Homo sapiens: one gene and its partners. The protein of the gene in region 2 purifies or fractionates together with the protein of the main gene of each other region. This does not show direct contact. Each region holds a gene or a part of one and is shown on either strand. Other genes may lie near its edges. The genes, in order: WDR20, ALS2, RAB5A and PDCD10.

Region 1 (7,795 bases), on a different chromosome or scaffold from region 2:
TTCTGCTTCAGGGTTAGTTGTCTCCACTGGAGATTTTCAGACAAGAGTGGGAGGGGGTGGGTTTCCCTTATTTCACCAATAAAAGCCCAGCATATTGGGATGCCACAGGACATTTCTCATGAAGAAAAGAATCCTTCTTGAAAGTGGGGAGGGCACATTGAAAAATCACTTTTCACCCAAGTGAGAAATCATTTGCTTTTGACTCTCTCTCCCCATCCCCTTAATGGTCAAACAGACCTGGGTTCCAAATCCAGCCCTGCCACTTACTTAGGTAGGTATGGTGACGTTGGTCAAGTTATTTAACTTCCCTAAACTTGTTTTCTCATCTGTAAAATGGGTAAAATATTGTCCACTTTGGAGCATTATTGTTAGGATTAAGGACAATGCATGTAAAGTCCTTTGATTATGGCCTCGATAAGTAATGTTCCCCGAAACCTAATCCAGAAGAGGGATTTTGACCCAGGAAGGGAGCCACCTGTATAGAGTGGGCTCCAGCAGTGGTTCTTAGACTTGAGCGGGCATCAGAATCACCTGGAAGCCTCTTTACGACTTGCTGGCCCTACTCCCATAGTTTCTGATTCATTTAGTCTGGGGTGAGGTTTGAGATTTTTGCATTTCTAAGTTCCCACATGCTGCTGCTGCTGCTTCTGGTTTGGGGATTACACTTTGAGAACCACTGGGCTGCAGGTAACTGGCCAGTGGGCATGTAGGTGCTGTAGATACATTTGAAAGCCGAGCTTTTTATGTGGTTACTCTGTTAGACACTGCTTGAAATGCATTTTGAAAATACTGAATTTAATATCTCAAGGATATTTCCTGCTGAAGTCCAGGAGTCTTTGTTACATATATTTGAAGGAGAATAAGTTGTGAAAGTAACAGTTGTAAACATATTATAGATAGTCTAATAATATCTAATTGGCTAAGGTATGTGAAAGTGCTTTTATAAAATGTTAGATGATGTTAAGTCACAACTGAAAAAACATTTTAAATCACTTTGTTTTTAAGATGAAACATCATAATGGAGTATAAAGTAGCATAACTTAGATTTCTCATCTCAATGTGCTGTTTACTGTATGTATTTTTCTCTTTCTCCTCCAGGCTGCTGACTTGAGTAAACCAATAGATAAAAGGATATACAAAGGAACACAGCCTACTTGTCATGACTTCAACCACCTAACAGCCACAGCAGAAAGTGTCTCTCTCCTAGTGGGCTTTTCCGCAGGCCAAGTCCAGCTTATAGACCCAATCAAAAAAGAAACTAGCAAACTTTTTAATGAGGAAGTAAGTAGCACCCTGTCTTAGCTGTTAAGAATCCCTTTAAGAGTTGATACATTCTTACCGAGGGTAGTCGGCCTTATTTTGCACTTCAAGCTAAGCCCATTTTTTATTCGCCCAGCCCTCCTACCTAGTATGCCCAAGTTTAAATGTGGTGGATTAATTTGTTGACCTTACCTGTTCTTCCTTGGGGTGACTGTTTTGTGCATTTTTATGGAGCATGCTCAGGTGTCTATAACAGGTGTTTTAAAACTCTTCTATAATGGAGATAGGGACAGTACTGTAACTCGGTATTTATAATTTAAGTAAGAAAATGTGGAATTCCAAAGTTGGTTCACATCACCAGAACATTTCATGCAGATCAAAGAACTTGATGACATTTCCTTAGGCTGCTTAAATTGTAGCCAAAGCTTTTGTATGTATGTTTGACAGTCATTTGGCTAAGGAGTACTTCACTTGCTCTTGAAAATAGTTACTGTAAACTCATCTTTGACATAGTTGGAAATCCTGGCGCTTAAAGTTTGGTCACATGACATAGCTTTTGCCAGTGTTGTAGTATGTACTGGGGTTTCTAGTATCTTCAATTTCATTCTGGAAAGAGCCTGAGATATCTGAGCTGTCTGTTCAGGAACATGTCAGGACTGTTAAATGTGGCATATAGAAATTGCCAAGTAGATTATATTTTTTAAAGCTGTTGGAGCATCTTTCAGCCTCAAGTATTGCTATTTCATATTTAATATTCTTCCTCGTCTGTTTCAGTATGACTTTTCTACCAAGTGGAAAAGATAAGGTAGGCTTGCTGAGTTAGAAGCCCTGGGTTCCAATCTCTACTTGGGACCTTGCCCCTGAGGCGCAAGGGTCAGGCTATGTGGGACCCCCTCCCTTTTGCATTGTTGCATGGTTTTAACATCATTAACTTGGAACAAAAACACATTATAGAGTATGGTTTTTAAGAAATAATTTTGTTTGGGGAAGAAAATTCAAATTGACAAATGGCAGTTAAAATTTGGATTCTTTTGCAGTTATGGTACTTGCTATTCATGCAAATCAGTATCCACCCAGGGTGCTCCTGTTTGACATTGCCAGTGGATTTGATAAGATCTTATGAACCATGCCATCTCTTCTAGTTTCCTCTGAGTTGACTGGAAACAAAACTTGCCATCTGGACTGACAGATTGTAGAGGAAAAGTATTTAATCCCATTTTCCATTAAAAAAAAGTTAAGCAGAAAATATTTTATTTACCTAGATGTTTTTTTAGTATCATCTGCAGAAGTGATTTCTAAGTAGCTGGATGATTATTTTTTTGGTGCTGAGTTTGGGGAGCAGCGCACAAAATTGGCCTCCTCTGCACTGTTAGCAGAAATTGTGAATTTGGAATCATTGTGGGTTTTTATTGTTTAGGTAGGGGAGAGTGTGATTGGAGGGGGCAGGGATTGGAGCCATGTAAGGGCTGTTAGTAAACAAGACCCGGAGGCAGCCCTGGCCGAGGATGGTACAGAATGCCGCTTAGAGAACAAGAAAGTTTTGTGTGTCGTGGCAGGGGGAGGGCAGGGAGTTGGAGACCACACGTCCCCAGAATCTCAGGGCTCTGGGAGCACTCAGGCTGCATTGGCCAGAACTATCCCTGCCCTGGTGACTGGGAGTTGCAGGCTGGAAGGCAGCTCCTCATTCTTCATGATTTAAGCATGAGTTATCTCATACTCACTTTACATTTTATTTGAGAAATTGCTATTTAGAATGCTAAGACTGTGTGTGGTTTAATGCCAGCTTTGCATTTACAGCTTGAGGCTGAAATCGATTGCCCTTCATAGTAAGGAGATCCTCTGGCCATGTGGATACATTTTTATCAGATTTTGGTCAGAATGTCTAAGAGCAAGGGTCACCGGAGGTTTGTTCCTTAGAGAGTGCCAGGAATGGTGGTGAAGTAGTCATCGTGTCGTGCTTTGCTGTGGTGTGACATTTACAGGTTTCAAGGCACTTTTACCTATGGCCTCTACAGGGAGGGTGGGGAGTTGTTCCCATTTTACAGATGAGGAAATAGTCAAAGAGCACATAAGTGAATTGTCCAGATCAGGTAGCAAGTTGATGATAGAGTTGGAACCAGAAATTAATTCCAGAAACTCATTGGTTACAGGACCCACCATGCATGGTTGCCAGATGAGCTCTTGCCCTTCCGGGAGCTCACAGTTTAGTAAGAATGGACAGAGAGTACTGGGCACGTGTCAGCACAGCGATATGAACAAAATACCAAGGGCTAGCTGCCGCAGGAATTCTTTAGTATGCATTTTAAAGTTTTTTAAAATGTTAAGTTCACTGGGGGAGTTCCAAGAAATGCTTTTAGAAAGTGATGTTTGATGTGGGTCTTAAAGGGTACATAGTCATTAGAGGAGGGTAAGGAAGGCCTTCAAAGCTGGAGGAACAACTAGGCATGTGAAAGAACATCCAGTAACAGCTTGGCCACATCACAGTGTGGGACTTGGAGTGTCAGAGTTCGAAGCTGGAAAGATAAATTGGAACCAGCTTGTCTTATAAAAGCCTTTTCATGTCACGTGAAGCAATTTGGAACTGACACTGGAAGATGTGGGGGAACCTTTGGCCTTTTAATGAAGGGAGTGACAGGATCAAATGTGTTTTTTTAGAACTCTTGTCAGCACTTGTGGAAGGTGGATTGGAATGAAGAAAGACAGAATGAAGGTAGCAAGACCAGTGAGGAGGCTCTAGTAACTGTCCAGGTGAGAGCTGAGGGCTTGAACTAGAGTTGCGGCCATTGTTTCATTCATTCAGGACCTTGACTACCTACCACATGCCCAGCACTGGGTCTGCAGCAGTGGGCAAAACCTGCCCTCCTGTGACCCCTCTCAGGAGGGAAGAGAGGTATAATAGCACCACCCCCGAAACACTGGTGACCACAGATGGTGACACTTTGTGATGTAAGAGGCAAGAGAGCAGGCCCAAGAAAGGGAGAGAATCACAGAGGTCTACTTTATTTATTTATTTATTTATTTATTTATTTATTTATTTATTTATTTATGAGACAGAGTCTTACTCTGTCACCCAGGCTGGAGTGCAGTGGCGCAATCTTGGCTCACTGCAACCTTCACCTCCCAGGTTCAAGCTATTCTTGTGCCTCACCCACCCAAGTACCTGGGATTATAGGCCACCTGACTAATTTTTGTATTTTTAGTAGAGACGGGATTTCACCATGTTGGCCAGGCTAGTCTGGAACTCCTGGCTTCAAGTGATCCACCCACCTCAGCTTCCCAAAGTGCTGGAATTACAGGCGTGAGCCACCACGCCTGGCCAACACAGAGGTCTACTTTAAACTGGGAGGCAGAGGACATCTCTCGGACGAAGTGCTATGTTTTAAGCTGTGCCTCATGTGAGAAGAAGGCCAACCAGGTAAGGAACTGGAGATGGAGCTTTCCTGCAAAAGGAATAGCACATGAGGGCCCTTGAGCCCAAGGAAACTGAAAGAAGGACGGTTTACCTGGGGAAGGTGGCATGAAGTAAGGGCATGAGATTGGAGGGCCACATCACCTACGGCCTGATCCAGATTTGTTTCTTAGCCTGAAGTACGGGATTCCTTAGAAGGGAGCAGGTGCACAAGGCAGGCAGATTGGTGTTTTTGAAAGGTACCCTGGCTGCTTTTTGGAGACTGAATTGGAAAGGTGTATTAATAAATCAGGTTTCTGGGTGTCTCTTGCTGTGTTGGGTGAGACTGGGAAAGGAGCAGTTGTCAGGGAATGGAGGGGAAGATCAGAGGTTCTGGTCTGTACTTGCTAAGTTCGAGAGACCTGTAGATAGTGGGATGTATGGATCTGGAGCACAAAACTAGGGGTTACAATTTGGCAGTTGTCAGCATAGAAATAATAATCACATCCTTGAGATTAGATGAAAGGTTCTTTGGAGAGATGATGGTGAGAACAAAGAAGGCCTGGGTCTGAGGCCTGATTATACTCCAAGATTCTGGCCATCTCAGCTACTGCTTTCAAAGGGGCACTTAACACACAGTTAATTACCACGACATTTACAACTTCACAGCCCAGAATGCTGAGGGCTCGGACACCAGCTCTGCCACTTTCTGCTTGCAGGATGATGTGGGTCTTACCTCTCCTCGGTTGGAAAATGGGTGGGAACAGCACCCACCTGAGAGGTTTGTGATGAGGCTCAGATGAGTGAGTTCAGGCAGGGTGTTTGTGAAGGGCCTGAAGAGCGAGCCTTGGTGGATGCTCAGCAACGTGGAGGTTGAGAGAAACTCAGGCTTCCTTTCCTGGGAGGGGTGGTGTTGGACGGAAAGGGTTCCGTGGGAGGTGAGATACCAACCGTTTTGAAATACAAATAATTAATTTTTTAGGACAAGCAGGTAGGAGCATGGCAACCCAGGCAGAGAGTCAACATGTGTGAGGCTGAGGGTTGGCCCGCTGGTCACAATTACAGCAATGTGGCCTTTCAGTGTTCCTCACCAGAACACCTCTCAGACCCACCTGTTACCACACGTGCACACACCTTCACACACCGAATCCCCAGCATCAGTTACTCTGGCCTTTGCCTCCTTTCTGGTGCCTGGTACATGAAAATGTAATAAATGTTGGGATGGAAAGATGAGTGAAATGGAATTATAAATTTCAGAAATCCACCTGAGATAAACATAGATGAAAAATTCCCATCTGGGAACAAGTATATTTTAAAAGATGATTTTCCCCCTGTCAATTAAAAATTGTGTGCATTTAAAATGCTTGTTGATAGAAAAATTGGAAAATAGAGAGGTACAAAGAAGGTAGGAAAGCATCACCTCTAAACCGTGACGCTCACTGTTGACTTTCACAGTCTGTGATTGTTTTCAATGAGGGGACACCATAGGGCTCACACCTTCCATTGGGGGTGAAGGCAAACTTCACCAAACTTCATCTCCAAGTCTGGCCCTGATCAGGTCAGCCCAGTGAGCATGGGCAGGCCCTGCCCTCTTCCCGCTCCCTGGGACTGTCCTCAGTCACACTGGAGGTCCTTGCTGGTGCATCTGTTCAAGACCCAAAGAAAGTCGAATGCCCAGTCCTTTCTAGCCCCTCTCAGGAAATCATCCCCAGCTCCCTGGAGTCTCTGCTTTCCCCAATCTTCCAGAGTAGATTTTGGGTTTCTGTTTGTAGCGTTCTGTACATATGATGCCCTTGAAAATGTCTAATGGGCCATTATTGAAAGTATCTTGGCGCACGGTTCATCTGACAAGCTCCCAGATCGTGGAGCGTGTCCTCATCATCAGAGCTGCCCACAGAGGAGAGTCACCCGGTCACATTCAGCTCACTGTGGTGAAGCACCCCACAGGGGCGAGGAGTTTACTTTTTAAATTTTTTTTTTTGTGTGTGTGTGTGTGTGTGTGTGTGTGTGTGTGTGTGTGTTTCACTCTGCCCTGTTCTGAAGTTTGCTTTTTATAACTAATGGTTATATATTTGGGGAGGAAGAGTTACAAAGGGACAGTTCCTATATGGTAATGAATGCAACCTTGTTGTCTGTGTAAAAATCCTGATTTTGGAGTATATTCACAGAATAGTAACTTTGAAGGATTTTCAAGTATGTGTTAATTGTTGGCTGAAATATAAAATGTTAAAGAACTTGGCATTTGGCTTCTTTCGTTACTGACACGATACCCTCTGCTGTTGCCCTTCTCCTCTCGCAGGCTGTGAGGCTGAGGCAGACACACTGGGTAGGTCCCACGTCTCCTTGTGGCATTTAGATCCAGTCTTACTGAAGGGCATGCTGAAGAGGAGATGGCCCTGACTCCTGGGGTATGGAGGGACACTGCTGCCAGCCCAGGCTGCGTGGCACATCCTGCCAGCTGCAGGTGCCTCCCAGGCATGGGGTAAAGCTTAGCAGTGTTCTGTCTATTCTGATACAAAGGAATGGTCTGCACATTTTGTTAGTTTTGTTTCTGTTGATTTTCTAATCGAAGGAAGGAAATGAGCCCGTAATGATCTACTCCTTAAAGCTTGAACACAGATAAAACGACATCCGATCCCATCTTAATGTGGCTTTGAAATACCCTTTCCTAATACTTCCTGAGCCCTCTTCAGATGCCTTTACATCATCAGAGCCTTTAGTTGCCATTTTTGCTTGTGGTTGCATTATGGCTTTTCAAGCAGCTGCTGTGGTTTTTGAATTGTTTCAGTATTTTTGTTATAAATTAATATCTGCATTTTGAAATGCAGATCCACTCACCCCCAAACTAATTTTTGATTTTTGCTTATCATATTGATAGTAATGAAAAAAAAGAAAAAGAAAATGAAGTGCCTTAGAAAGCGTCAGTGTGAATTGCTTTCACAAAATGACACTTTGATGTGGTTATAGACTTATTTTTATTCTTGTTTCATTTTAACTAGTGTATTTTGAAAATCTTGTCTGTTGATGGCATTTGGGATGGTAGTGTTTTCGCTGTTCGTGGGATTTTTCTTTGTATTCATATCTTAAGTGGCACGGTCTGTTTGGCCTGCAGAGCTGGAACTATGGGGAGGGCCGCGCTGAGCGTTG
Region 2 (7,795 bases):
GCGGTGTTTGTTTTTTTCTCCTTGCGATAGTTTGCTGAGAACGATGGTTTCCAGTTTCATCCATGTCCCTACAAAGGACATGAACTCATCATTTTTTATGGCTGCATAGTATTCCATGGTGTATATGTGCCACATTTTCTTAATCCAGTCTATCCTTGTTGGACATGTAGGTTGGTTCCAAGTCTTTGCTTTTTTTTATTTTATTTTTTTTGAAACTGAGTTTTGCTCTTGTCGCCCAGGCTGGAATGCAATGGTGCAATCTCAGCTCACCACAACCTCTGCCTCCCAGGTTCAAGCAATTTTCCTGCCTCAGCCTCCCGAGTAGCTGGGATTACAGGTGCTCACCACCATGCCCAGCTAATTTTTTTGGTATTTTTAGTAGAGATGGGGTTTCACCATGTTGGCCAGGCTGGTCTTGAACTCCTGACCTCAGGTGATCCACCCGCCTCGACCTCCCAAAGTTCTGGGATTACAGGGATGAGCCACCACGCCCAGCCTAGGGGTTCTTAATGAACTATTTCTGTTTTCAAGATATATTCTTACTCCCTTATCAGGAATCAGATTAGTTCTTAAATTTAAAATATACTATTAACTAGAATAAAAGGGAGAGTTATAGTTTTAAAATTTTATGGTAATAAATACATGAAAAATTAACTTTTTAAAAGGTTACCTATTCAGAGACTCTTGCTATAACTTTTGTTCATTAAGTCTATCAGAATACTAATGCTAATAATAGCTAATGTTTGTTAAGCAGTTGTATGCCAGACACTATACTAAGCCCCATGTGTTAGTAGATAACAAGTTAGTGAGATAACAAGTTCCATGTGTTATCTCACTGAATCTGCACTGCTACCTTATGAGGTAGCTTCTATTATTATTCACAGACAAGGAAACTGAAAGTCAGGGAGATTAAATTTTCCCAAGCACACACAGCTATTGAAGTGTCAGAGTCAGGACTGGAACTCAGTCTGATTTCAAAGCCTGCTTTTAAAGCCACTTGGCTGAACTTTCTCAATATAATTTTTTTTTTCAGGCATGAATAGCAATTCACAATGCATATTATAAAATCTATGAGTCTATTACCGAAACGTGTGCTGTAATTTATAGAGGTACCTTTAATCTTAATGGCACTTTATCAACTCAATCATGACAAATTTGACTTGGGCACCAATTGCCATCTACTTCACTAATTTATAAATTTCTGCTCTGTAAGTATTTATTAAGGTATTAAATAATGCTTTGGTATTTTCTTTCTAGGAACTAAAGGAAGACAAATTCTAGGAAACAAGGATTAAATCTGGTCCTGGTGGTTGTATGGGATAAACATGGATTTCTTTCTAGTTTGTCTTATATCAGTTTTATTATAATATTATTCTTCAGGACTTTAAAAACAATCTTACTTTAAAAGTGTGAACTATATTCAATACCTGTCCTATGAGATTTAAAATATATAGTTCTCAAGCAAATATAAGTGGAATTCTGTTGTTGTTTTCAATAAGATATTTGGAATATTTTCATTAAGCTAATGAAACTGGCTGGGCACAATTGCCTATGCCTGTAATCCCAGCACTTTGGGAGGCCAAGGCAGAAGGATCCCTTGAGCCTAGGGGTTCAAGATCAGCCTGGGCAACATAAGGAGACCATGTTTCCTGGGCAACATAGGGAGACCATGTTTCTACAAGAAATATTTTAAAAATTAGCCAGGCATGGAGGCCTGCGCCTGTAGTCCCAGCTACTTCAGAGGCTGAGGCAGGAGGATAGCTTGAGTCTGGGAGACCAAAGCTGCGTGCAGTGAGCTGTGATTATGCCACTGCACTCTAGCCTAGCTGACAAAGTAAGATCCTGTCTCAAAAAAAAAAAAAAGTTATTCGACTATAAACATGGTATCTTTAGAATCATACCTTCAAGGCTAGGACAACTGAAGGAAAACTTTTCAAAAATATTTAAATAGCCTATCGTTATTCATGTTTAAGCAGTGTCCTGGTATTAAGTGTCACAGTTACCAAAAGAAAACGTCGTCTAACACAAGTGTATGTTTGAAATTGCATACGGACCTCCAGTGCTATCTTTTCCAGCTGAGGAAATGGTTGAGTGCTAGAAATTTTCAAGGTTCTTCATCTCTATTAAATATGACCATTAGCTCATAATTCAATGAAGATACCTCATTGATTCACTTTTATTTATTTATTTATTTATTTATTTATTTATTTATTTATTTATTTATTTTGAGACGGAGTCTCGCTCTGTTGCCCTGGCTGGAGTGTGGTGGCACGATCTCAGCTCACTGCAACCTCCACCTCCTGGGTTTAAGCAATTCTTCTGCCTCAGCCTCCCGAGTAGCTGGGACTACAGGCCAGTGCCAGCACTCCTGGCTCTTTTTTTTTTGTATTTTTAGTAGAGACAGGGTTTCACCATATTGGCCAGGCTGGTCTCAAACTCCTGACCTAGTGATTCGCCTGCCTCTGCCTCCCAAAGTGCTGGGATTACAGGCGTGAGCCACTGCACCCAGCCTGTTTCACTATTTTTTATATGCTCCAGTTTTTGTTTTTGTTTTTTAAGGAGAGGGATCTAAATATCCATTTCTTTGCAGTATTGCTCTTTCTAGTGGAATAATGTTAATTGAAAGACTTGGTGAGCTTTTTCAAGTATACTGTTGTATTAGGAAACAAAGTTTAAAAGAGCTTAACCAGTGAGCTTATTTTCTCATGTCAGTATTCTTGAACCAGACTATACATTTCCTAATAAATGCACATATCTTCCCTGTAGCCACTATTGAGTCCTTACTTATATAGATGATGTGATGAGTTAACTTGAGTGTATACATGTATCTGCCATGTATAATAGGTCAAAGATAAAGTTTGCATGTTTTCATCATCAACTCAATTGCTGCCTTATGAGAAAAAAAACAGTGCTTATTTCTTCATTAATTAAAAAAAATCATAAATCTCTGGTCATATGGAAAAGAAAGGATAGTGGGCTTGGCTCAGTATTTTTTAAAACCCGTAGCCAAGTCTTTGTTTCATTGAATTTTTAGCCAGCATAGCTTATGTGTACCTGCTCCCAAGCTCCCACAATACTACAGTAAAATTAAGACTTGGTAGCATAGCTGGACATACATGAGTTATTTATATACCCAACTCACTGGTGCCTTTCATTAATTCTAAAGCTAGCCAGTTATTCTGACAGGTTCATTTGCTTTTTTGCTTTGTTCTGTTGTGATGATTTGCTTTTTATTTTTAACATTTTTTAGGCTTACTTCACTTTATTTTTCTTGTATAAAAACCCTATGTTGTAGCCACAGCTAGAGCCTGGGTCCTCTGTCTGGAGACTCTGGTGTGGGTCTTGACGAGGTGGCCAGTGAATTCCTGATACGGAGACTTGGTGAATACAGTCTCCTTCCAGAGGTTGGGGGCCAGTTAGCTGTAGGTCTTGGAGATGGCATCATAGGTGGCCTTGGTGAAGTTGGCCAGGGTGGCAGTGCAGCCCCTGGCTGAGGAGTAGCAGTCATCGATACTGGCCATCATCAGCAGCTTCTTGGGCACTAGGGCTAAGAGAATGCCAGTGCCTCTGGGTGCAGGGATGAGGCGCACCAGCACAAAGCCACAGCAGTCTGTCACCTTGCAAGGGACTGCGTGGTGCTTGCTGATCTTGTTCCCCCAGTAGCCTCTGTGCACGGGGACATTGGAGAGCTTGGCCAGGATGATAGTCCCTTGGATGGCAGTGGCCACCTCCTTGGAGCAAGTGGCCATTGTAGTCCCCAGTGGCAACAAACACCTGGAATCTGGTGTGCTGGCCAGTGCGCGTCTGCTTCTGCACTGGCACAATCTTCAAAACCTCATCCTTGAGAGAGGTCCCCAGGAAAAAGTCAATGATCTCAGACTCCTTGATGGGCAGGGAGAAGTGATAGGTTTTCAGCAGGACTTCATCTTCGTGTCTTTGACCAGGCAGCTCAGCTTGGTCATGGGTGTCCACTCCTTATCCTCAGCCTTGCCTCCTTGAGCTCTGTGGCCCCGACCCTGGCCCCAGATGCCACTGCCCAAGCCTCCATGGAAGTCACTGTGGTTCCCCATCCCAGGGTCTCTGGGGCCTCTGGGCCCTCCTGCTGCCCTAGCTTCATCTGCCATTTGATGTTTTTTCAGAGAAGAAGCTGATTTGCTTTTTAAACAAATCTCACCTCAGAAAGACTAGCTAGTATCTAGTACATAAAGTCCAGGGTGAGCATCCCACATTAAAAAATCTGAAATCTAAAATGATCCAAAATCCAGAACTTTCTGAGTGCTGATGTGATGGTGCTCAAAGGAAATGCTCATTGGAACATTCAGATTTGGGATGCTCAGTCAGTAAGCATAAGGCAAATATTCCAAAACCTGGACCTGAAATCCAAAACACCTCTGGTCCCAAGCATTTTGGATAAGTGATACTCAACCTGTATATTTATGTAACATCTCAAAACTATATATAATGTGACATACAAAGTGAAGACAGCCATGTCTTGTTAAGAACTGGTGCTTCCTGTACAGCCTAGAGGCATAAAGTTAATTTCTTAGTTTTGGCCAAAATGAATCGCTAATATTTTTAAGCCATTGCATAATTTTTTGCTGTTCCAACTTGTTTAGTAGTAGTGAATTGTAGATATTAGTGAATGTGTCTGTTTTGTCTTATTTTTTGCTTATTTTATCTTAACATGGTTATTTATTTTGCCTTTGAACACTTGGAATCTGTTTCTATAATAGCCTGGATGATGGCCGTTAGGAGTGGATTGATGTGAGGAGTTTGTAGGATGAGGCTGAAGGAAAGGATTAGCCTCCTGCACTTTGTAGAAATTCTCACTATAGTGCAGAATATTAAAAAGAGTCATTTTTAAAAAGATGAATTAATGTGAAATACTGTGTGCTTGAACCAGATTTCTACAACTGCTTTTGAAAATTTAAAAAGAAAATCCAATTTGGTTAAATCTATAGGGGACTAAAAGTTTGCTGTTAAAATTTTTAGTTAATTCACTAACCCTTTTTTTTTTCTTTTTTCTTTTTTTTAACCTTCAGATGGTGAGGTCTACAGCTTTGGGACTCTTCCCTGGAGAAGTGGACCAGTGGAGATTTGTCCAAGTAGCCCCATTCTAGAAAATGCCCTGGTTGGGCAATATGTTATTACTGTGGCAACAGGAAGCTTCCATAGTGGAGCAGTGACAGACAATGGTGTCGCGTACATGTGGGGAGAGAATTCTGCTGGCCAGTGTGCAGTAGCCAACCAGCAGTATGTGCCGGAACCAAATCCTGTCAGCATTGCTGATTCTGAGGCCAGCCCTTTGTTAGCAGTCAGGATTTTACAGTTGGCGTGTGGCGAGGAGCACACTCTGGCATTGTCAATAAGCAGAGAGATTTGGGCATGGGGTACCGGTTGTCAGTTGGGTCTCATTACCACTGCCTTCCCAGTGACAAAGCCGCAAAAGGTAGAACATCTTGCTGGGCGAGTGGTGCTTCAAGTTGCCTGTGGTGCTTTCCACAGCTTAGCCCTTGTACAATGCCTCCCTTCCCAGGATCTGAAGCCAGTCCCAGAACGATGCAACCAGTGCAGCCAGCTCTTGATTACTATGACTGACAAAGAAGACCATGTGATTATATCAGACAGTCATTGTTGCCCATTAGGTGTGACACTGACAGAATCTCAGGCAGAAAACCATGCCAGCACTGCTCTCAGCCCCTCCACTGAAACCCTTGACAGGCAGGAAGAAGTATTTGAGAACACTCTTGTAGCAAATGATCAGTCTGTTGCTACTGAACTGAATGCAGTAAGTGCTCAGATCACAAGCAGCGATGCCATGTCCTCTCAACAAAATGTCATGGGAACAACTGAAATTTCCTCTGCCAGAAACATACCATCATACCCTGACACCCAAGCAGTCAATGAATACCTACGGAAACTGTCAGATCATTCAGTAAGAGAGGACTCAGAGCATGGTGAAAAGCCAGTGCCATCTCAGGTACCTGCTCAATTTTATAAAATAAAAGTGTGTCTAGAGTTGAACTGTATGGGCTTTTCTTTAGAAACTTTAAAATGAGTAAGGCTTGGTAGCATTTTTTATTTTTTGAGTTTGATTATAATTTTGTTTTATCAGGCAAGCCTAGATAAAGGAAAGAACCTGGATTAATTCAAAATCACTCTTTATGTTTGTTCTGGCCCTTTATGATATTGAAAGGTGTCATGTTGGGCTTGTTTTATAAGTAGGAGCATTTCATTTTTTTTTCTTGCTAGTACTTTTTTTCTATGGCTAAAGTACTGAATTTTGGTGGGCCCTGAATAGTTTAATATAACTAGAGATTCACAAAGATTCTTCTTACTTGTGTTTGTAACACTCTTCAGAATTCTGTAGAGAAAAGTCTTTTCCTTCTTTAACAGGGAAGATTGTTTTGTGGCAGATCCTTCAATTGTAGGCAGATTTAAAACTTACAGGCAATTACATGTTTCAGTTTTTTTCAATTATAGCTGTGGTCCTTACTGGGCTTAATTTGAAGAGGTGGCTAATATTTTATCTTTTTGTTTGTTTGTTTTTGAGATGGGGTCTTGCTCTGTCACCCAGGCTGGAGTGCAGTAATGCGATTGTGGCTCACTGCAGCCTCGATCTCCCAGGTTCAAGCGATCCTCCCATTTCAGCCTTCCAAGTAGCTGGGACTATACACATGCCACCACACCTGCTGATTTTATTTTTAAGTAGAGTAGAGCCTGTTGCCCAGGCTCATCTCAAACTCCTGAGCTCAAGCAATCCTCCCACCTCAGCCTCCCAAAGTGTTGAGATTACAGGCATGAGCCATCATGCCCAGCCTATTTTATATATCTTATTAAAACTATTTTCATTTTGAAGATTTGTGGTAGAATGAACAAAAGTTGTTTATCAGTAGCACATGGTAAAGTTTGAGTTCCCGCTTAAACTAAATTGTTTTAAAAGGATTATTTCTGTGTTTTACTCTTAGTGTGGCCTTTTGATTTTGCTTTACCAAAACTGTAAGAAAACAAAACAAAAGATCATACTCATAAAAGATCTGTCCTGCAGTGTTTCTTTTTAGGTTTTTGAAACCACATAGCCTCTTGATTCTCAATTCTTATTGTTTACTCTGTCAGAATGTGAACATGAAGGTATTTTTAGAAATAGTCTTTATTTCACAATCTATTCACTGAAACTTGTGGGTATTTGAATTTTTAAAAAAATCAAGGATAAGCTGTTTGGAGAAAGGTATTATAAAGTCTGAACAAAGCAAAAGTAGTAGTTTAACAAGAATGCATGTAGAAAATTCTTAGACTGTACATGCTTATCACATTTTACTTACTTTGTTAAACATTGGAAGTTTTTGTTACTTATGCTAGTAACAATGTGTGTGTTTCTATTGAATTAAATTTAATTTATTTAAATTAAATGTGTGTTTCTATTACATTTAATTTATTCTTTGTAAATAACATCTCAATCATACAGCTAATTCACAAGGAATTTATTTGTTTTAGGGCAAGTTTTTTCTCTTCTGGCGAGATATAACTGAGACTCTCTCACTTGGGAAATAAACCAAAGTATTACTGGTTGACTGGAACTCCTAAAATTATATATTTCATCAAAATTGCTAATTATGTTTTTTGTAGGGGAGGGCTTATTACTATATTTTTAAATATAATTAAGTAGAAGGAGCCAGTTAGAACAGTAGTTCAAGGTTTATATAAGGTAGAGTTTTGTGACTTTGCTGTACCTAGTGGTTAAGAACCCCCTAAAATAGTTACCTCTAAATACCATCACTGCTTATGTAAGGAGCCT
Region 3 (7,795 bases), on a different chromosome or scaffold from region 2:
GGCGTGAGCCACCATGCCTGCTGTATTTTTATTTTTTCATTATGCTAATTTAGGAGATAAAAATTGTTTTGACTATGTGGATGATTTCATTGACTACTGGTCTCCTTTTCTGTTCTTTTGTGAATTGTCTTTACACATTTATCCCTGAGGTTCTAAAGTTTTTCTAAACATTTATAATAGCTTTCTACACATTGAAAATACTAATCACTTAGCATCCATTGTAGAAATTTTTCTCATTAGGTTTGCCCCTTTGTTATGGATGTTATGACACAAGTTTTGCAAACCTGAAGTTTCATATTTTTGTGTAATCAAATCTGTAGTCTTATATAGAATTTTGGTCAATTTTAATAAAGCAATTCTTTCCTGTCAATTTTGATAAATAATAAGTTTGGGCTTGAAGTTGTATGGTTTCTCAGTTTTTGTATTTTTCCCCTTTCTGTTTAATTCATGTAGAATCATTTTAGTTATGGGGTGGCGGTTACTTTGTTTTTCTTTTTTTTCTTGAGACGGAGTCTCACTCTGTCACCCAGGCTGGAGTGCAGTGGCACAATCTCGGCTCTGCAACCTCTGCCTCCCGGGTTCAAGTGATTCTTCTGCCTCAGTCTCCTGAGTAGCTGGGATTACAGGCTCATGCCACCATGCCCGGCTAATTTGTATTTTTAGTAGAGACGGGTTTTCACCATGTTGGTCAGGCTGGCCTTGAATTCCAGACCTTGTGATCCACCCACCTCGGCCACCATGCCCGGCTAATTTGTATTTTTAGTAGAGACGGGTTTTCACCATGTTGGTCAGGCTGGCCTTGAATTCCAGACCTTGTGATCCACCCACCTCGGCCTCCCAAAGTGCTGGGATTACAGGCGTGAGCCACTATGCCCAGCCACTTTGTTTTTTAATTATTAATCTTTGGTTTAATGCCATCAATTTGAATATCCTTTCCCTTGCCCAGTGTGTTACAGTGTCTTCCCCTGGCTTACTGTTTAAGTCTTGCATATTATAATAGGCCTTTGGTATTTGCAGATTTGACATTTAAAGCTTCAGCTATTCTCACCTGATTCCAGGGTCTGTGGTAAAGTAATTTGTAGTTTTGCTGAGGCTGAAATGTTACTTGCTTGCTGCCAGGCTTGCAAATAGGAGCTGATCACGTAGCTCAGAGGGAGCCTATCAGACAGGCCAGCACCCACATCTCAACGCAGCTTTGTTTTTCTCTACTTGTCATCGCGTACACAGTAACTCTCGAAGTGATAAAAGCTGTTTCTTTGTGAAATATGGGCCCGAAAAGAAAACCAACTGCTAGTGCTGGTGATGGAAGTGAAGAGAAAATGAAGCGGTCTAAGAGTGATGGTTCTTAGCCAGAAAATAGACGTTTTGGATAAATTAAAGTGGTTTTACAGATTCAGGTAAGTTTGTGGTTGGTTAATGTTGCTACAGTATTGATGTAGTAGTTTTATCTTTTCAGTGGCAGAATTTGTTTACGTAACTTTATAAATTACTAGTAATGTATTTTTAGGAGCACTGAGGATTTGAAGATGTCACCTAAATGTCAGTTACACTTCACCGAGTTTTATAGGGGAAATTAAACACTGTAGTGGAATTTGGCCAGGTGTGGTGGCTCATGCCTGTAATCCCAGCACTTTGGGAGGCCAAGGCGGATGGATCACCAGAGGTCAGGGGTTCAAGACCAGTCTGGCCAACATGGTGAAACCCCATCTCTACTAAAAATACAAAAATTAGCCAGACGTGGTGGTGGCCACCTGTAATCCCAGCTACTCGGGAGGCTGAGGCAGGAGAATCACTCGAACCCAGGAAGCGGAGGTTTCAGTGAGCCGAGATCGCGCCATTGCACTCCAGCCTGGGCAACAAGAGCTAAACTCCATCTCAAAAAAAAAAAAAAAAAACACTATAGTAGTATTTTAAAACTTTAGGACTTTGAGAAATCATGAACGTCTTAGGGTGTATTATGTATATCAAGAGTTTATTATAGTGGGCTACACTATTCCAGTAATATTTCTGTTCATTTAGTACTGTAGCACTTTTCATTTTTTAAAGTATATTATAAAACTGATTTTCCCTGGCCTCTAATGTTGGTCTTTTCTCCCCCAAAATTATGCTTTATCATACCACATGAACAGTAGTACGGTGGTGGTGGTGGTGGTGGTGGTTGTTGTTTTGAGACAGAGTTACACTCTTGTTGCCCAGGCTGGAGAGCAATGGCACAATCTCAGCTCACTGCAACCTCTGCCTCCCGAGTTCAAGTGATTCTCCTGCCTCAGCCTTCCGAGTAGCTGGGGTTACAGGCATGCACCACCATGCCTGGCTAATTGTTTTTGTATTTTTAGTAGAGACGAGGTTTCGCCATACCGGTCAGGCTGGTCTCAAACTCCTGACCTCAGGTGATCCACCTGCCTCGGCCTCCCAAAGTGCTGGGATTACAGGTGGAAGCCACCGCACCTGGCCCAGTACAGTGTTATCAGGTGAAAAATATCTTGATGTTGTTTTTGAGGTTGTGTTACAACTTGAGTAGATACCTTGTGAAATATCTATTTTTTCACATTTGGGAGCTGCCTCTCTCTACATTCAAATGTTATCTGAAGTAGCCTCTAAATGGTTCCATGTATCTTTTTGAACTTCCTTCTTTTAGTAGACATTTTTGAACATCTGTATGAACAAGGATTTATATTAAATGTTGGTACAGAGAGGAGCTACTACAAGTTGAGCATCCCTAATCTGAAGTCTGAAATGCTCCCAAATTCTTCGAGCATCAATATGATGTCACAAGTGAACAATTTCCACACTTAACACCTTTGCTTTCTGATGAGTCAGTGTACATAAACTTGGTTTAATGCACAAAATTATTTTAGCTTCAGGCTATGTGTACAAGCTTTATGTGAAACAAACGAATTTCATGTTTTGACTTGGATCCCTTCCCAAAAATATCTCATTATGCAAATATTACAAAATCTTTAAAAATCCAAAACATTCCTGGTTCCAAGCATTTCAGATAAGGGATACTTAACCTGTGGTCATTGCTCAAGTAACTCCCAATCAAGGAGAAGAAAAAGATATAAACCAATGATTATAAAAGGTGTGAAACGTTATTACACAGAGAACTCTGGGAGCACAGATGTAGGAGATATTAACTAGGGTGGAATGAAGGAAGGTTTCTAAGCAGAGTTGAGGAATGAATTGATTATCTTCTTTGTTAATCTGAATGGGATCCATTCCTGTTCAGCATGATTTCCCTTGGTTTTGTTCCTAGATTTAGGAATGATGCCCTGTTTTGCCATAAGGAAGAATCTCGTGTGTTTATTAGGAATGGATATTGACTCAAATGCCTTTTTGTAATTTGTTTAAATAAAATGGATTTTTCTTCATTAGCCTGTTAATGTAATAGTTTTGTATTTCTGAAAGAATGTACTTGGTAATGGGCATTTGTTTGTCTTAATGTATTTGTTGCAATTTCTTTGTATTTGGCATTTTTGTACATGTATGGTGTACATGTATGGTGGCCTCTTGTGTCTTTAACTGGCTTGAGAATTGGATCATATTTTCTTTAAGGCAACATCTCTAATACAGTTGGCCCTCTGAATCTGTGAGTTCCACATTTATAAATGCAACCAACTGCAAGTTGAAAATATTAAGGGGGAAAAAATTAACTTAGCTCCAAAAAGCAAAAATTAAATTTGCCACACACTTAATACTATGTTGAATCTATGTGGATGACGTGAGGTGCAGGCATTGTATTAGATATTATAAGTAATCTAGAGATGCTTTAAAGTATACAGGAGGATGTGCTTAGGTTATATACACATACTTTGCAATTTTATATCGGGGACTTGAGCATCCTCAGATTTTGTTATCCATTGGGGATTCTAGAACCAGTCCTTCATGATATATGGGGAGGTCCTGGAAACAGTCCTCCACAGATACTGAGGGATGACTATAGTTATTTCCCTGAGCCTGAAGTTTACTTATGGACGTATAAGTGAATGTTTTTAGTACTAGTAGACTTTGTGATCATAGTATGTCTGAAAAATGAAACAGTCTGTGCACATTTTAATTCCTTTTTTTTTTTTTGCAAGTCTGCATCAAACTATACTTGAAAAAAGGCTTATGTATTGTGACTTATTTTCCTCTTTTCCTTTTTGGTAAGAGTACTGTCTTAGGGACTTAATTTTAGTTTAAAATTTTAGTTTAAAAACATTTTTTGATCCTACAGGAGAACCTCTCGTGACCTTCAAAAAGTGACATAGTGCTGTCTGGATATCCTTTACCATAAATACAATATTTTAGAAAATGGACAATTCTGCTAATTGTTGGTTAAAAAAAAGTTTGAACTGGATTAGAATATATTTACAATGTGATTAATGAGAATTCATAAAACTATTAATTAGAATCTAGGTCCAAATGAAGATGTTTACAGTATTGTTTGCAAAATTCAGAAGATTTTAGTTGTTGATACTAAAGCCAGCAACCAGTTAACCTAAAAGAGCGTGAAAAATAAATGTTGTGTCTAACGTAAAAGAGATATATCTCATTAGACTTTGTTTCTTTAGCACATTTGATACTGGTTAGTACATCTCTATCAACGTCACTAGATAAACGGCTGTAATTTAGAGAAATATATCATAATTCTTTTGCATAATATGACAGTTTTAGAAAATGGTAATTCAAGTGCATACCAATTTGGAAATAGGGCTTGAATATCACACCTTGAGCTAAATGTAGAAGGAAGGGAGGAGCATACCAATTTACAGTGAATGATAGAGCAGCAGCAGAGGGCGGTCTAATGGCTGTGTGTAGGTCTTTTAATTTTAACAATATTGTATCATTTTATAATGCTACTTTTTTTTTTTTTTTGAGACAGAGTCTCTGTTGCCAGGATGGAGTGCAGTGGTGCGATCTCAGCTCACTGCAACCTCTGCCTCATGGGTTCAAACGACTCTCCTGCCTCAGCCTCCCGAGTAACCGGAACCACAGGCAAGCGCCACCATGTCGAGCTAATTTTTGTATTTTTAGTAGAGACAGGGTTTCACCATGTTGGCCAGGATGGTCTTGATCTCCTGACCTCGTGATTTGCCTTCCTCAGCCTCCCAGAGTGCTGGGATTACAGGCATGAGCCACCACGCCTGGCCTATAATGCTACTTTCCTAGTGTTAAAATTAGAATCAGGGAAAGTACAGATCCAAAAAATTCTTATGGCAGGGAATGAAAGGTAGGAGCAAATATTGAATCAACTGAACAAATTAAATCTAGGTTAAGGTAATAATGACTACCACAATTAAAGTGTCACAATGTTTTAAAAAATAATATAGCAAGAGGCCTGGTACGGTGGCTCACGCCTATAATCTCAGCACTTTTGGGAGGCACTCCAGCCTGGGAGATAGAGCAAGACTGTGTCTCAGAAAAAGAAAAAAAAAGATAATATAACAAGAAATACTAATTTGGTGGTAACTGACTGGGACTAAATTGCCAGTGTGCGCCAATAAAAACTAGTAAAATGGAACAGGACATGGTGTCAGCAGTATAGATGGTACTTTTAGGCACACTGGGTTTCCCCCAACTTCATTTTTTAAGACTATCAGTGCATTTCTTTAATTGTAGAGCAATTTTGAAATGCAGTCTTCGCTGGGCTTGGTGGCTTACGCCTGTCATCCCAGCACTTTGGGAGGCCAAGGTGGGCGGATCACCTGAGATCAGGAGTTCGAGACCAGCCTGGCCAACATGGTGAAACCCCATCTCTACTAAAACTACAAAAATTAGCCACGTGTGGTGGTGCATGCCTGTAGTCCCAGCTACTCAGGAGGCTGAGGCAGGAGAATTGCTTGAACCCGGGAGGCGGAGGTTGCAGTGAGCTGAGATCACGCCCCTGCACTCTAGTCTGAGACTCTTGTATCAAAAAAAAAAAAAAAAAGAAGAAGGAAAAGAAATGTAGTCTTAAGTTTATTTAGTATTATAACAAGCTTTTTTAAGATGCAGAAGTTTTTCAATCTGTGATTTCACTACAAAGGCCCTATATGTAAGCATATATGTAAATAGCTTAGAAGCACAGGTTTGCCAGTATTTAAAGCTATTATCAGCTGTGGGTATGCAATCTGTCAAGTTTCTAGGTGTTTTCTTTTTTTTTCCCCCCTCATTTATTACTTTTAACTGACACATAATAGTTGTACATACTTACGGGGTACAGTGTGACATTTTGATAGATGTATACAAGCAGGTGTTTTCTATATTATGAAAACATTTGGAGAAAAATGATTGACTTATTGTAGTCCTTTTCTTTCAGCTGCTTTTCTAACCCAAACTGTATGTCTTGATGACACTACAGTAAAGTTTGAAATATGGGATACAGCTGGTCAAGAACGATACCATAGCCTAGCACCAATGTACTACAGAGGAGCACAAGCAGCCATAGTTGTATATGATATCACAAATGAGGTAAGTATGGATGCATTCCACAGTAAAACTAATTTGAGTACCCACTTTTGGTGTTCAGAATTTTGATTAAATGTTTTGGAAAATCTTTTTCTGATAGTCATGACCTTTCTGCTGAAGCTTTTGTGAATTAGAAAATCTGGTTTTAAAAAAAAACGAAAATGTCTCATAATACAATAGTCCTAATAATTTCTTTCCCACAGTCACTTGGGACAGTCTTTTAAAGCCTTGTATCACAAAGATGCTTGGTAACCATTTTTTGAGCCTGTGCTCAATGGCTGTTTCTTTGTTTAACAGGAGTCCTTTGCAAGAGCAAAAAATTGGGTTAAAGAACTTCAGAGGCAAGCAAGTCCTAACATTGTAATAGCTTTATCGGGAAACAAGGCCGACCTAGCAAATAAAAGAGCAGTAGATTTCCAGGTATGTTAAATTTAACTCTCATTTGAAAGGCACTTTTTTCCTGTATGTTTTTCTTTCATGTCAACACTTGAATTAGTTATAATGTCAAAACCATGCAAGTAATAGAAAATACTGATTTTTAAAACAAATATAAAGTACTACATATAATAAAATGTTTCTGATAAACCTAAATTTTTAAATAGATTATTGTAATATATAAACTGACCCAAAGATTTTGTAGACTTAAACAATAAAGGCCGGGTTCAGTGGCTCACGCCTGTAATCCCAGCACTTTGGGAGGCCGAGGTGGGTGGATCACCTGAGGTTGGGAGTTCAAGACCAACCTAACCAACTTGGAGAAACCCTGTCTCTACTAAAAATACAAAATTAGCTGGAGATGGTAGTGCATGCCTGTAATCCCAGCTACTTGGGAGGCTGAGGCAGGAGAATCTCTTGAACCCAGGAGGCGGAGGTTGTGGTGAGCCAAGATCACACTATTGCACTCCAGCCTGGGCAACAAGAGCAAAACTCCGTCTCAAAATAAAAAAGAAAAACAGTAAAAGTAGTCATTGTTCACAGTGCAGAAAGTGATTGTATCCTGCCCTAATTCCTCCATCCCACACATACTTTATGTCCTAACCCTCTTCTACTCATGTGCAAATATGTATCAGCACATGTGTGTACCCCACATATGTACATACGCAAACACTTATGTGGTTGTTCTTAAAGGGGCATTCAAACATAAAGGTTCTGCCAATCTGTATCCAGAGTTGGAAAATAATAAGCTAAAAACTAATAATTAAAAAAAATTTTTTTAAGGCTGAGAAAATCCAGTTTTGTATTACGATTGCTAATTCAGAATGTTTGCTGCTGCAAAATAGGCAAGTGCAATCACTTAAAAACAAAGCAAGTCCTCTATTTAGACTTTTTTTTTTTTTTTTAAGATGGAGTCTTGCTCAGTTGCCCA
Region 4 (7,795 bases), on a different chromosome or scaffold from region 2:
AAGTGAAATTGAAGGAGGACATGTTAAAAATGTAAAGATGCTTGTATTTTTTAAATTACAACTTTTGAAAAAGATGAAAGAAACCTCACCAGTCATAAAATCTTTTATATTCATAATTCCAATTATTGGTCCGCAACGACAATAATTTTCATCATGGTTTTTGTTATTTGGAGGGAAAAGAGGATTAAAATAGTTTTTCCCAAGATAATACCATTGAATATTTTAATGTATATACAGTTAACCTTTGAACAGTGTGGAGGTTAGAGGTGCTGACCCCCTGCAGAGTTGAAGATTTGAGTATAAGTTTTGACTTCCACAAATCTTAACTACTAAAAGCCTACTGTTGACCAGAACATCTTACTGGTAGCAAAAACAGTTGATTAACATATGTTTTGTGTATCCTATATATTACATACTGTATTCTTAAAGTCACAGAAAAGAAAGTGTTATTAAGAAAATCATAAGAGAAAATATATTTATTATTCATTAAGTTGAAGTGGATCATCATAAGGTCTGCATCCTTGTCGTTTTCACATTGAATACGCTGAGGAGGAGGAAGAAGAGAAGGGGTTGGTCTTGCTAGCTCAGGGATGTCAGAAGTAGAGAAGGTGAATGGGGAGGCAAGAGAGGCAGGCACACTTAGTGTAACTTTACAGAAATATGTTTAATTTCTGACTTATTTGCTTTGTCATTTCTCTAAAAATGTTTCTGTACAGTACCAATCTTCCAACATTTGCTTTAGTTTCAGTGCTTGTATCAGAGAAGGGTCCATGTCATAAAGCAGCCTTGAATAAAGAGAACTCTTCTGCTGGGTTGTCTAATGTCCATTTGTTTTCTGGCACTCCTTTGTCTTCTTCCTCATTGTCCATTAGCTCTTAAATTTCTCTGATATCCATATCTTGAAACCTTTCATCCTCTACGTTTTTTTTAACCATATCTACAATCTCTTTCATGATTTCCGTGGCTCTGTTGTAAATCCTGTGGAGTCATGCACAACATGTGGACACAGTTTTCTCCAGCAGAAATTTATTGTTTTAGGCTCGATGGGTTTTTCTATAACAACAGTAGCATCAGTGGTGTAATTCTTCCAGACTTTCATGGTATTCTTTCTACCAAGGATTGTTGACAGCCATTTCCATAGAGGCCTTATGGTTCCATGTATAATGAGCTTTAAAGGTTCTTGATCCCCTGATGTAGAGGCTGATTTAGAGGTGTGGTGTTTTGGGACAAGTAGGCCACTTTGATGCCTTTCAGTGTTGAACTCATGGGGTTCTGGGAAGCAAGGGACATTATCCAGTATCAGAAGAATTTTTTTGAACAACAATAATAATAAAGGCTAGGTGCGGAGGCCCATGCCTTGTAATCCTAGCACTTTGGGAGGCTGAAGTGTGAGGCCAGAGGCCAGAAGTTCAAGACCAGCCTAGGCAACATAGGAAGACCTTGTCTCTAATTAAATATACAATACATATATATGTGTGTGTATGTATATGTAGATATCTCTGATATCTATATATATATCTGATATCTCAATATATATCTGATATCTGTAGATCTAGCTATATAGAGATATATAGGTATCTCTATAGATATATATAGACAATCAGAAGAACTTCAGAAGACCATCCCTTCCTGCCAAGATGCTTTCTAACCGCAGAAACAACGCATTGATGGTACCAGGCTAGAACAAGGGTTCTCTTTGTCTAGGTCTTCTTGTACAACCACAAGACTGGAAGCTGGTGTTTTTCTTCTCCCTTCAAGGCTTGAGGGTTTAGCAGCATTATAAATAAGGACAGTCCTGATCATAAACCAGACTTCATTTGCACAGAACAGTAGAGTTGTCCTATCTCTTCCTGCCTTAAATTCTGGTGCTCACTTCTCTGCTTTACTAATAAATATTCTTTGTGGCTATTTTTTCCTTCAGAATAGGGCACTTTGATCTGTATTAAAAACCTTTTCAGGCAGATATTTTTTTCCTCAAAGATTTTCTTAATGGTGTGTGGGGACTTATTTGCTGCCTCTTGGTCATCAGAATCTGGGTCTCCTGTTATCTTGACATTTTTTAAGCAAAACCTCTTTCTAAAATTATCAAACTATCCTTGGCTGGCATTAAATTCTTCAGCTTTAGACTTTCCTTTTGCTTTAAGTTGTCATAGAATGACTTTGCTTTTTCTTGAATCATATTAGGGTCTATAGGTATGCCTTTCTTATAGATATCCTGCACCAACATAAAAGCTGCATTTTCAACAGGAGACAAAAAGGTATTTCACAAAACATGCAAGGTTTTTGTACCTGCTGATGTAGCTGCAGCAATGGCTTTGTTTCATGAATTTCCTTTTTTTTTTTTCTTACAGTGAGTCTTAGACTGTATTCAAGCAATTCAGTATCATGCAATACACCTTCTTGTAATGTCATGACTTTGCTTCTTGAGCACACTTCCAACATCACTAGTGGCACTTTGTCGGGTCCCATGGTATTATCCCATGTTTAAAGTATTGCACTAAACACGATGAGAAAAATATGTGAGGGCTGGGAGGTATTACTTTGTACTGGGATGTGCAGTTTGCTGGAGAGATGAACTGTTCACATGGAGTTGATTAGAGTCACATGGCGTTTTAATCATATACTTACTAATACTTGAACTGACTGCAATAGCAACAGGAGGTGGCTTCAAACTTATTACATATACACGTGTACTACAGTTAATTTTGTGCAGTTATGATTTAATATTGCATCTGTATATTTGTTTATATTTCTTTTAACTGCAAATAACACCATGTACAGTCTGTTTGCGTGTGAGTTTTGATAAATTTTAACTTTTTAATAATTTGTATCTATTTTATAGTAAATACTAAAATAGACTAGTGGATAACTATATTTTATGCATTCATAACATGTGTTTTTATTATTTTTTTCACTACTTATAGGCTACTCAGTTTGTCTATAAGTTTTTTCAAATTGTTGCTGATCTCCAAAAATTTTTCCTATATATTTATTGAAAAGTATCTGCATGTAAATGGACCTGAGCAGTTAAAACCAGTTCTTCAAGGGTCAGCTATATTCTACTTGATTCCCTCTCCCCCTTATCCTCTATGAGAGGTTCCGATAGGTTGTCCGTCTTCCAGACTGAGAATCACTGATCCACAAGAGTGTATGTTGCTGCCCTTCGGTTTATTTTTTTCTTACAGCTGGATTCTTTACAAAGATTAGACACCCTACAGGGTTCATGTTGTATTCTGAGGGAAAACCTAAGAGTTGTAGATTGTCTCCCTGATTTAAGACCATATTTATTCATTTTGTCAGTCAGAGCCATTTGGTAAATTCAAGCTTTTGAAATAAGAATTAGCTTAACCAGGTTTTTAGCCAGGAGGTACTGAGACTACTCCTTCCAAACTATGTACTGAGGTACCTGGTGGCCCATAGCAAATTCAGAGGGGTGCCACGAAGTATTTTAAAATTGTGAAGGTGTACAGTGATACTCAACATCTGTTTGACACTGCATGGACTCCTAGCTTGAGATGGATTGCAATTTAGCATATTGGATTGTCCTTCACTGCTTTCATTGGTGTTAGATCATTGAGAAGCTGGACTTTTTGGCCAGTGCTATGATCTAACAGAAGTACCAGAAAAAAATATATCTGCAAGAGGAAATGAGAGGGGCAAGGTCCAATCTAAGACCAATGTTTGAGAAATTATGAAGTGCCCAGTAGGCACACACATCCCAGTAATAAGTGACAATAGTTATTTAAGAACAGAGTAAAAATTGTTTTTTTCAATTTATGTGTATTATTTTTTTAAAGGCTAGGTAGTTAGGACACTATACTTATTAAGTTGTTTAGACCTAAGTATTTAATAAACAGCACTGTGAGGTGTATCTTTTGGCACTAAGGACACTGAAAACTGAGAAAGTTAGGGACCTTTGTGAGACTTTTGTAATGCTCTAGCTTTAGCATTTTGGGGTCCCAGACCAGCTTGGTATTGAAAACTTTATTCTCAGACTTTCAGCATTTTAACCTTTCAGTACTTTATTATAACTTAATCAGAGATATGCTTTTCTTTTTCTGTCCCCTGCAAGCACATAGAGAATGTTCCCCCTCTCCCCAAGATAATTCATTATGTAGGAAGATTTATTGCTAGATAAGATAAAGTATTGTTACTGAATGCTACATTATATGTAATTTTGTGGCAGTTCACCGCATTAATGCTATAACAACACATCTTAAGCCATATTTGGACATCTTATAAAGGAAACTCCTTTTTTAAAAAACACAGTTTTTTTTGTTTTGTTTTGTTTTTAATACGAGGTCTTATTCTGTATCATAGGCTGGAGTGCAGTGGCATGATCATAGCTCGCTGCAGCCACGAACTCCTGGGCTCAAGCAGTCCTCCCATCTCAACCTACCAAGTAGCTGGGACCACAGCCACACCCCACCATGCCTGGCTAAAAAGTAGATTCTTTTTAAAATATATATCCATGGAAGGAAAAGTCAACATAGGCTGTAAAAGAAACAGGATTCAGTCAAACACAGTTTATTGTTATTAATCATCTATCAAAATGATTTTCCTGAATAGTATCTGACAGCATTTAAAATGATCCGAAGATTGGAATAAATGCGTGTATTTTCTTTTCTCATTTCATCCCACAACCCTTCAGTTTTTGATACTTGAGATCTAATGAGAAACAAGATGTTATAATGGAAAGAGCAATAGGAAGAGAAGAAAACTGTATCTGCAGTGATAATCAATGGAATTGAAGAGGCGGAGGTTAAGTGTGCTTGACACATAAGGAAACAAAAAGATTGCCATCTGATTAAGATCGTAAATTGTGTTTCTATTTTGCTGTTTAATATTAGGGCAAAAAGGAAAGAAAATCATCAGCATAATGATTAAAATTGGCAGGCATCCTACAGGAAACAAACATCAAGTGTGATTACAGAATTTACTGGGAAAAACTGAAATCTGAAGATTAACTCTGGCTTTGGTAAACTCAGAACTCTATGCCCAGTCTTGAAATGGCTAGAAAATTTTAGTGTCTTGGGGAGTCTAAGTAACATAGAACCAATGCAAACTCAATGAAACAAGCTCAAAAGGTAGTAAAAGGTTTCATGATGTTCTAGAAACCAGTGAAGGAAATATTCTTGCTACAAAAATAAAATAGGAAATGAAAATCATTGTGTGGGAAAATAGTTAAGGTATTATTATATAGGTTCAGTAAAACCTTCAAAATAAATCCTTTTTTGTTTTTCCTGGCATTCTCTTAATATAAATGGAAAGAATATGCAAAACACTAGTCAGATGAGTTATTGCTTGATCCTTGAGTTGCAGTATTAGCACATTAAAAAAAGCTTAAATTCTCAAGATATTTAAAGTAATGAGAATAGCAATTGATAGATTACTAAAACATATATAATCCTTAATTCTATCTTTGTTATTAGTTCAATTGCAAAAGAGTATAAAGAAGAGTAGAAAATACTAAGTTCTTTCTGTTCAAATGGAAAATGGAACCTTAGTCATAGTAAAGAGTCGGGTGCACAAGCTCTAACAAAGCCTTAGTGAATGCTATCATGACACCTGCTTTACAAAGATTTCTGCCCTTAAAAGTTATCAGTGTAAGACGCTCCCAACAGATTCTAAACAATTAAACTTTGGCTTTAAAATGTTGATTCCTTATCTGTATTTCAAAACTAGTTTTCTCTTTATTATAGGCTGAAAAAGAAAATCCAGGTCTCACACAAGACATCATTATGAAAATTTTAGAGAAAAAAAGCGTGGAAGTTAACTTCACGGAGTCCCTTCTTCGTATGGCAGCTGATGATGTAGAAGGTAACGGACAGAAGAACCTTGTTTAAGTTATACAATTGTTAAATAGCACTTCCTCTAAATCATTATTATTTGACCAAAGGATCTTCCTTCCCTACTGTTTTCCCTCCCTCCCTTTCACTTATGATGATGATGGTGGTGGTGGTGATAGTGATAGTGGAAGCTAATGTAGATAAAATAGAAAAATGGTTTTTCTTGCTTTTTATATTTGTGAGATTTAATTACTTGAACTTTGTTTATGCTGCATACTTCAATTTTTCCCCCCTTTATGTTTGGTGAGTTTCAGTTTTACTAAAAGATAAGCTTATTTGGAATGTGTTGACTTTAAGCAAACAACAGTTTGAAAGTAATGAGGTTTTTGTTTTGTTGTTTTTTTAACTTTAGTACAGCATCTGTGTTTCAAGCACAGATTTAAGAGAATAATATAACCATCCTTTTTACTTTTCTTATTTTTTTTACTTGAAATTATTTAGACGTTGGTTTTACTTAAGTTTAGTAGCAGTTTTCCCACTAATTTAGAAAAATATGGACATATAATTTCCCAGAATTATTAAGGAAGAACACAAAGCAGGTATTTTAACTGATTCCATGATTTTAAGAAAGCCCTTATCATTATTTAGAGTTGAGCATTTGCAGCCCATTAGGCCATAATATATTGATGAATTGGTAGAGTTGTAATGCTTCCAAGTCTGCAATGAATCTAGTGAAGTCTCCTTTCCAAAATTGGTGTTCTGTGATCCCAGCCTGTGTGTTGGATTTGTGCTGGTGTTTTTGTTTTTAAGTGAGATTTCAAAAATGTGTAGAAGATTTTATTAGATTATTTGGGGTTTTAATATGATGAAGCAATGTATATTAAATATAGGGGTTTTAAATTTTTAATCTTTCCAGTTGGCAAGTAGATATTACCTTTGCACTAGTTATGACACTCATTATTTAATTTAAGGTTTCCTTGGGAAATGTAATGTCAGAGTACGGTTGAACTTAAGCCTCCCTTTTAAATCTGTTTTTTTTTTGTGTGTTTTTTTTTTTTAAGATTTCATGGGATGTCCTTTTGTCCCAAATTGAAAATATTTATTCTTTCTTTTTGTGATACTTTACTTGAAGGGAGCCCTGCTGTTGTTACTGGACTAAGTCAAACGCTAATGAATTCTGCTTTGCAACCTTGTCTTTCCTAATTATCTGGCCTTTCACCTCCCTCACCTGCCTTTGACCAACATTGGAAATTCTTAGATGTGATGAATTTGGCAGAGAGTCGCAGGATGTTTTTTATTATGTATTTATTTTATCAGAGTATATGATTGAACGACCAGAGCCAGAATTCCAAGACCTAAACGAAAAGGCACGAGCACTTAAACAAATTCTCAGTAAGATCCCAGATGAGATCAATGACAGAGTGAGGTTTCTGCAGACAATCAAGTAAGCAATTATTTGTTTTGTTTCTTCTTTTCTTAAAAGTACTTCCGAGGAACTACTCATCTACATTTTTTAATTTTGGTATGACTAACTTGAAATGCTTATTTGAAATAAAATCTCAAATTTTTAAATACCACATTTTATTAACTTTATGGCGTTTGGTTTCAGAGTACAGCATTTTTTAGAATGTTTAATTTTAAAACAACAATGAAATGTGCATAAACTGGAATGTAGTTTGAACTACATAAATGATGGGAAGATATAAATGTCAGATAAATGAATAGAGAAACTGGATATATCCTAGAGATTGGTAGTAAGATATACCAAAATAATTTTTATTTCAGAAATAGCAGCAGTCATTAAGGTAAGTAACGTACTCTTAGGCATGAGTAGTGTTTTCTAAGACTGACCAAATAGCCTCTAAATCCTTGCCTTTGGGGGATATAGGTTAAATAAGACCAAGAATACTCATGGGGCCAGAAGGCTGGCTGGTGAGCAGCAGCAAGAAGGGTCATCCTAGAGCAGTAGTTCTCAGACCAGGGACACTCTTCTGGAGTACAGTGAA

What was found.
Region 1: the proteins of ALS2 (region 2) and WDR20 purify together in Homo sapiens (affinity purification with mass spectrometry; one large-scale study listed by BioGRID and IntAct). This does not show direct contact.
Region 3: the proteins of ALS2 (region 2) and RAB5A purify together in Homo sapiens (pull-down; one study listed by IntAct). This does not show direct contact.
Region 4: the proteins of ALS2 (region 2) and PDCD10 purify together in Homo sapiens (affinity purification with mass spectrometry; one large-scale study listed by BioGRID and IntAct). This does not show direct contact.

The regions. Positions count from the first base shown.
Region 1 is NC_000014.9:102,193,840-102,201,634, forward strand, and holds part of WDR20 (WD repeat-containing protein 20), read left to right. Parts: intron 1-1,098; coding exon 1,099-1,281; intron 1,282-1,287; exon of another isoform or gene 1,288-2,034; coding exon of another isoform or gene 2,035-2,065; intron 2,066-3,915; coding exon of another isoform or gene 3,916-4,008; intron 4,009-6,947; coding exon of another isoform or gene 6,948-7,004; exon of another isoform or gene 7,005-7,795. UniProt on the Homo sapiens protein: Regulator of deubiquitinating complexes. Activates deubiquitinating activity of complexes containing USP12. Anchors at the base of the ubiquitin-contacting loop of USP12 and remotely modulates the catalytic center of the enzyme.
Region 2 is NC_000002.12:201,759,066-201,766,860, reverse strand, and holds part of ALS2 (alsin), read left to right. Parts: intron 1-1,033; exon of another isoform or gene 1,034-1,208; intron 1,209-3,250; exon of another isoform or gene 3,251-4,147; intron 4,148-5,042; coding exon 5,043-5,980; coding exon of another isoform or gene 5,981-6,058; exon of another isoform or gene 6,059-7,409; intron 7,410-7,795. UniProt on the Homo sapiens protein: May act as a GTPase regulator. Controls survival and growth of spinal motoneurons.
Region 3 is NC_000003.12:19,969,321-19,977,115, forward strand, and holds part of RAB5A (ras-related protein Rab-5A), read left to right. Parts: intron 1-1,227; exon of another isoform or gene 1,228-1,397; intron 1,398-6,280; coding exon 6,281-6,432; intron 6,433-6,726; coding exon 6,727-6,849; intron 6,850-7,795. UniProt on the Homo sapiens protein: The small GTPases Rab are key regulators of intracellular membrane trafficking, from the formation of transport vesicles to their fusion with membranes.
Region 4 is NC_000003.12:167,695,034-167,702,828, reverse strand, and holds part of PDCD10 (programmed cell death protein 10), read left to right. Parts: intron 1-5,702; coding exon 5,703-5,820; intron 5,821-7,106; coding exon 7,107-7,233; intron 7,234-7,795. UniProt on the Homo sapiens protein: Promotes cell proliferation. Modulates apoptotic pathways. Increases mitogen-activated protein kinase activity and STK26 activity. Important for cell migration, and for normal structure and assembly of the Golgi complex.